2 linked regions of the Homo sapiens genome follow. The protein of the gene in region 1 purifies or fractionates together with the protein of each later gene. This does not show direct contact. Each region holds a gene or a part of one and is shown in the gene's direction. Other genes may lie near its edges.

The links. Proteins that work in one complex are often made in the same cells at the same time.
Region 2: the proteins of CPNE4 (region 1) and PUM3 purify together in Homo sapiens (affinity purification with mass spectrometry; 2 studies listed by BioGRID and IntAct, with this or other methods). This does not show direct contact.

The regions. Positions count from the first base shown.
Region 1 is NC_000003.12:132,028,302-132,032,052, reverse strand, and holds part of CPNE4 (copine-4), read left to right. Parts: intron 1-3,751.
Region 2 is NC_000009.12:2,842,418-2,846,168, reverse strand, and holds the start of PUM3 (pumilio homolog 3), read left to right. Parts: upstream 1-2,073; 5' UTR 2,074-2,124; intron 2,125-3,751. UniProt on the Homo sapiens protein: Inhibits the poly(ADP-ribosyl)ation activity of PARP1 and the degradation of PARP1 by CASP3 following genotoxic stress. Binds to double-stranded RNA or DNA without sequence specificity. Involved in development of the eye and of primordial germ cells.

The DNA.
Region 1 (3,751 bases):
TTTTAATTAAAAGGTGTTTGTTCTAAAGTATACTTAATCTGCTTGTGTATTTCTAATTAAAAATACCTCATTTCAGTTAGTAGGAAGTAAAGATGTTATCTGTTTATAGAGAAGTTTTATGTAATATTCCAAAACAATAGAAAAAAGCTTTGATTCTTTTAAATAATTAGATTATTCAAGCCCATTATTATGACTTAAAACCTTGAGGTTATACTGACTATAAGAAACAATCACAGACCAAAAAAAATGGGTTAATGGTGGAATCTTTATTCTCATATGTATTTGAATCTTTTGGAATTAATACTGAACACATTTATAAGGTTTGCACTATGCCTTCTTCTGACTTCACTTCGAAAATTCTTTGAAATGTAACACCCTAGAACATTATGTTACCTTTATCCACATAAAGAAAGGATCTTTTCATTTAGAGATGAACTTATTGAAGATGAGCCGTCAGTGTTGTGTGTAATCAATACCACACATTTTCAGAGTGGTCTGAATCCAGAACAAAGAATGAGACAGGTACTCTGATGATATCAACTTGGCTAATTGGGTAAAAGTCTCTACACTAGTTGGGAAAAATCACTTCATGCATCTTTGTATTTTTTAATCAGTGGTGTGTAAGAAGATCTGTATTCCGTGCACTTTGAAGAGAGAAAGGGCTAAATTTGTGTTCCATATTTGATCTTTCCATTTTTGTCTTGTTAATATTTTAAAAGAAAAACAAAAACCTTTGCAGATCCATTCAGTAACCCAAAGTCATATTTCCTTGGCAACAGTAGCCAGTACACTAGATTTACAAAATATCAAAATAGAAAAATTTAAATGCATTCAAAATAAAATGTCACATAGTTCAAGACCATTCTTTGGTGCATTAAAACTGATCTTCCAACATGTAATAATACAGTTGCCTTTCTCCTGATTGAATGTAGATGGCAAAGAATAGATTACTGATTTTAATTCTTTTTAAGATGTCCCCAAAATCTTATAATATTTTCTTTTCAGGGAAGCACATTATGATAATAATTTAGGTTGGGGTTACACATCCATTTTTTGGATAAAGTATTTATGTGATAGTTGATGGTAAATCCAAAAATCAAGCACAATAAATGGGTCAGGTAAGATGCATCATCTTTTCTATGTTATTTGAAATAGTCTATAGTAAGGCCTCAATTAGTGTTAAACTCAGTGAATATCTCCTAAACTTGTGACTGCATAATAAAAACATATTAGTGCCTACATATACTTTCAGGTTTTCTTTTTCTGTACTAGAAACTGCAGTTATGTGGGAGCTTTCTGTTTGCTGTATGAACTACTAAATATATGTGATATATTGGATATATTTTCTCCTAAATCAGCACATCCTGGGAAGTCCTTTATTTGTCTGCTGTATTCTTTGGAAACCCTCTTGGGAACCATCAGCTTTTAGCTCAGTAAATATTGAGGGTTGGAAGGCAAGTCTCAAAAATAAGAAAGTGATAAGGATGCCTTCTTTGGGAAAGTTTATTCCAGTCCTATTATTTTAGTCATAGGGCTGGAAGGGGAGCCCATTTAAGCTGATCTGTGATGGACTCATCTCTAAACTGTGATCAGCAACTTTCAACAGTGCAATATTTACCCAATAAATGTGATTGAATTTGTACAAAGTCATTGTCTGCAGCCATCTCCGTTAATGTGCATGTTCTATGACTCTCAGAACTGGAAGAGAGCTTGGGGATCATCTGCTGACTCTAGCAATTTAATTTGACAAATGTGGAAACTAAAGCTCAAATAAGTGACTTCTCAAAATCAGGAGACTCATTCAACAACCCTTCTGATTACTCCCCTCATAAAGAAACTCAAGTTCCCTGGAGATAATTACAGCAGTGGAGCCAATCTCTGGCACCATGTGCACTGCTGATCTTTATTAAGTATGAGTTAGGGATGATTGCGGGGGTGTCTCCCACCTCCATTAGAGTGTTAGGAGGAGTAGGCTTGGGACTTATTACATTGCTGTCTCTTGGAGCCAGTGCAATATTTACCCAATAAATGTGATTGAATTTGTACAAAGTCATTGTCTGCAGCCATCTCTGTTAATGTGCATGTTCTGTAAAAAATTGCTCATGCATAGACTTAGCTTTCTATTTTAAATGTCACAATTGAGTCAATAAAGTAAACAAAGAGAGTTTATGAGTGTTTACAGTTCCAGGAACACACAGGGGAATCCTTTATTCTGTTTTAAATTAAAGCGTCATTCAAAAAGAACAAACTTTCTTAAATGTTGCTTTTACATCTTTGGCTCAGAACACAGTATTTCTAACTTTGTTTTTCTTATTACTTAGGAAACTAGAGAAATTTCTCCTTGGAAATGTCAGGGGGAAAATACAGTATTTCGGATTAACTTTAGAAAGCTCAGGTTTAAGGCTTATTGACCAGAAGACCTCTTTCTTATCCAAGTGTAGGGCAATTCATTGCACCTTGAGGTAGGGGAGGAGCAAAATCAGGCTGGCAGGGGTCCACGGCAGGGCAAGCCCTAGGAGCTGGTGAGTCTAGAAGGACGGACTAGAGAGAGCTGGCATTGGAATGGACAATCGCTAGAGGGCGCCGGAGCACTAGCAGAGTCAACCTCCGGGACCCATAAGCAGGGCTTCTAGGATAAGGAATGGAGTTTGACCCAACCCCAAGATATGCCCTGGGGATATTGGTTTTCTCAGGTGCATCTGACTCTCCGGCCTGGATTGCCTCGCTGCGGAGAGGGGACAAAAGGTTTTGCCCTGAGCATCTGGTGGTGTCTTCCAGTGCCTGGTTAGGTTGCTCCGCGGCTGGACAGTCTGACTACTCTCAAAACTCCTCGTGACAGGCCTTTCTGGGGTCTGATCGCCCTTTGTTTCCTTACACTTGGGCCTGTTATCAGAAGAACTCTGAATCCGGAAATACCTTGTTTAAATTTGGGCTACAGTTTTCAAGATCCAGGCATTTGGGTGAATCACTTAACCCGAGTATTAGGATCTGGAAAATGGGGCTAGTAATTGTTGTAAATGTGAGGTGTTTAAAAGTGTCTGGCATTTTAGTGCGTAGATAAATGCTACTTCCTGTGCCCATTCTCTTGGGAGTTCTCCCCAAACTTCACCCTTTAAAAAAAAAAAAAAGAAAAATTAAGAATATATTTTACTTAACACAAAATTTTAAAAAATCATGTAATCGATATAGAGATTATTGAGATATTTTACATTCTTTTTTTTCTAGTACTAAATCTTTGAAATCTAGCATGTATTTTTATACTTACAGCACATTTTAATTCAGATTTGCCACATTTTAAGTGCTTAATGCTCCTATGTGGGTAGTGGCTACCCTATTGAAACAGTGCAGATCTATAAGAAGAGAAAATAAAATTACTTTCGCCATTTTTCCTTTTTGTTAAAGGTTAGCAATAATATATACAATGCTTGGCACACAATAGGAGCTTAACACAGGTTCACTGTGATTGTTATTTGCTATCACCATTTTATTTTTAAATGGGCCTCTTCTCCCATCTCTTATCCCTTCCCCCATCTCTTACCCCTTCCCCCTCAGCAGAAGGGTCTCATTCATCTATCTGTTGAATAATAATTGGTCACAGCATTTATGTCAAAAGCTGTGCTAGGCACTGGGGATAAACATAAAAACTTGAGGCACAGGCAGACTGGTGAAAAGAAACATTGAAATTGTGCTGTTAAGTGTGAGGAGAAAGATGAACAAATGATGCTAGGTAAGAGATAAAGAAGGAGATATT
Region 2 (3,751 bases), on another chromosome or scaffold:
TTGCTCTGATTAAATTGTGTATCACGCAAGAAGAGCATCTTAGGCTTGTAGGAGTACACCTAGTGGTCTACATTTAGATCATTAGATATTTGAAGAATTAATGGGTTTGCTTGACAAAAAAAAAAATTACAGGATAAGCTTTTTTTGTGCTGTTCTGCAAAACCACACGATGCTTTCAATTCACTCCAAAAAAAAAAAAAAAATCCAAATCAATCCACTTTCACAGAAGACTTGATAAAAAAGTTTTTAATAATAATCAAGGGCTTTGATATGTGATAACATTTTTTTTTTCCTCCCTGGTGAAAAGGCAAATGAATAGCAGGGTTTTGGTGCAGATGCTTAAGGCAACTGCATGGACCTATCTTCAAGGATATGGGGTGCTGCTGTCTGTCGAGTTGAAAACACAAACGTATCCCTTCCCAGGGTTGTGTGATAGGGTGTATTTTGCGATTTTTCTTTCTTTTTGGCCAGCATTTACTTGTCAGGTGTTTCAAGGTGTCTAATATCCCCACTACTATGCTATTTGCCCAAAAGGCACAGCTGATGGGCCTCCTGCAATTCCTGTTCCATATTCTCTTCTCTTAGCATTTACTGAATTATTGAAAGCAGTACGGAGGCAGCCACGTTGAGTTTAGAGTCAGGCTCACTGGACCAAAGCTACTATGTTTTGCCTTTCTCTGTAAAATGAGAAAAGACCTATTTAAAACGTTCTTATGAGATTTAAATGAGCTGAAATGTAAACTAGTAACAGTTAAGGTAGACGACAAGAACTTATCAAGTATCTATGTGCTGCATAGTGAGATAAGTGCCTGGAAAGTAATGATGGCCCCTGTCATCAAGAAGCATACAGTCTACTAAATTACCAGTTTCAACTCTAACTCCTTAGTGGCCAGAAAACGGAGTAAGTTGGAAGACAGTAAAATCTGAAGTCTGGCACCAGGGATCAAGTGCCAGTTCCTCAACTTTACAGATGCAGTGGGTTGAATAGTCTCCAAAAGATATGTCTATGTCCTAACTCCCAGGACATGTGAAAGTGACCTTATTTGGGAAAAGGGCCTTTGCAGATGTGATTAAGGACCTCCAGATGAGATGATCTTGGATTATCCCCGTGGACTCTAAATTCAATGTTCAGTGTCCTAAAAACACACAGAGAAGTGGCACAGGCACAGGAGAAGGCCATTAGAAGACAGGCCGAGATTGGAGTCATGCAACAAGAGGCCACGGACCGCCTGGAACCGTTAGAAGCTGAAGAAGCAAAGCATTCTCCCCTAGAGCCTTCAAAAGGTGCAGGGCTCTGCCAACAGCTTGATTTTGGAATTCTTGCCTCTAGAACAGTTAAAGAATAAAATTCTGTTGCTTGACACGAGCAAGTTTGTGGTGTCAGTTTCTTCATCTGGAAAATGGGGCATATATCCTAACCACAATCTTATTTCCTGAAGTATAAAATGGAATAACAGCAGTTTCCAGGCACGAGCAGACACTAAAAATGGCAAACATTTATTGAGAGCGTTCCATGCTAAGCGCTTTGCACGTATCACTTAATTATTTCTATTTTATTGATCAGGAAGCCAAAGCTCATAAAAACTGTAATTTTCCCAGAGCCACACAGCTAGCAAGTGAAAAAAACGGGATTACAATTCAAATCGACTCACAAGATACCCCTTTTATCCTCCACGCTGGACTGCTGAGGAAGTATGCAAATTAACACACTTTAGAAACTTTAGCTACTTCAATATTTGTTCAGGCTACGGGATGCAGGCCTCTTATTAACCGCGCCAGCCAGGTCTGTCCTTCAGCAGCCTGTTCTGCCTCGCAAGAGCTCTCCCTCTCTTTCCAGCACGGAAGCCACAGGGTTAATGACGTCATTTCCCGTGGCCGTTGTCGCGTCCTCCGCCCGACGGATTCTTGCAAGGGCCAAAATCCTCGCGCCTCAAGAGGAGGCATAACAGCAGCGGACCAATAGAAATTCCGAATTTTTGTATTCTCTGGGAAGCTCCACCTCTTAGTCCCTGATCCGCCGCGGAAGATGAAAAAAAGCGGCCCGGGGGCGGAGCAAGGCAAGGAAGCGGAAGCGGAGAGGCGGTCGGGATCCGCTGCGCGAGCTGTCTCGGTCCCACGTGTGCGGTGAGTGTGGCAGGCTCAGCGGTCGCTCTTGGGAGGGGTTCGCACCCTGCCGGGCGCTGGAAGTCGGGAAGGTCTCTCGGGGCTGTTGTCCACTGGGCAGTCTCCTCTGGCCTCTTTCTGGGCTAGGAGTTTGGGACTGACTGGAGCCTGGCAAGAAGGGCGGGACTGGCCGGGCGCGGTGGCTCACGCCTGTAATCCCAGCACTTTGGGAGGCCGAGGCGGGCGGATCACAAGGTCAGGAGATCGAGACCATCCTGGCTAACACGGTGAAACCCCGTCTCTACTAAAACTACAAAAAATTAGCCGGGCATGGTGGCGGGCGCCTGTGGTCCCAGCTACTTGGGAGGCTGAGGCAGGAGAATGGCGTGAACCCGGGAGGCGGAGCTTGCAGTGAGCCAAGATCGTGCCACTACACTCCAGCCTGGGAGACAGAGCAAGACTCCGTCTCAAAAAAAAAAAAAAAAAAAAAAAGAAGGGCGGGACTCCGACCTCTCTCCCACCACGTTGCCCTGCGTGCCGGGTTAGAGTGGACTAGCTTCACTCCGGAATCCCAGCCCGTGCTCGGCCTGATCAGCCTGTCTGTGCTACTTCACAAACCCCAACTCCAGTGCTAGGCGGTTTGCCTGAATGTACGCAGATTCTAAGTGCTGGGAGGAAACGAACTGGATGCTGAGTTGGCAGATAGTGGAGTCTGAAGAAGTGATCTTTAAACGGAGATTTGGAAGCTCAGGGAGTACTTCAAGCAGAGGCGATAATGGGCTAAGTTCCTGAGATGGGAGCTAGGAAGGAGTATAGTTAGAGTACAAGATAAAGTTAGCCGGATAGAGTGGAACTAGGTTCTGTAGGGCCTTGAAGGTCATGATGGGGAATTTTTTTTTCTGTACAATAGGAAAACATTTCCGTTCCTATTACCATGTGTAGAAAACATTGAAGACTTGTAAGCAAGTGAGAATCATGAATAGGCCCTGGTTCTCTTTAGAAAATGTATTACATTTGGAAGCTCAAGAGATTGTATTGGTAATAGTTTGCATTAGGGTGGTGACGTAAGGGACATTTAAGAGAACTAACTTATGGTTCAGCGTGGCAGAGTAGAGAGGAAAATGTCAAGGGTAACTCAGATTTCTTACTTGAGCAGTAAAGTAGATGATGTGCCATTGGCTGAGATGGAGGACGATAGGGCAGGGAAAAATAGTATATTGTTGTTTGTGGGGCAAACAACAATAACATAAAGAACAACATAGAGAATTATGTTTTGGACATATTAAGGGTAAGGTTCCTGTTAGACACATAATTAGAGGTATCAGATAAGCAGTTATACACAAGTTTGGACCCCAAGGAGAAGTTCATAATGGAGACATGATTTGGGAGTACTCAGCATAAAAAGCCAGGAGATTGGATGAGACCACCTAGGGAGAAGTGTGGAGAGAGAAGGGAAGTTCCCTAGGGCAAAGATTTGAGGAATGCTAACATGTAGAGGTTGGTCTATAAGAAAATGTCATTTAAACTGAATTTGAAGGATGGGTAGAAATTGTGTTGGTAGAGAGAATGGCTTTAAACTTCACTATTCTGATAAGAATAGTGGCTCCTGTGTGGTGGTGATGAGTGGGGTGAATTAAGACCACATTTT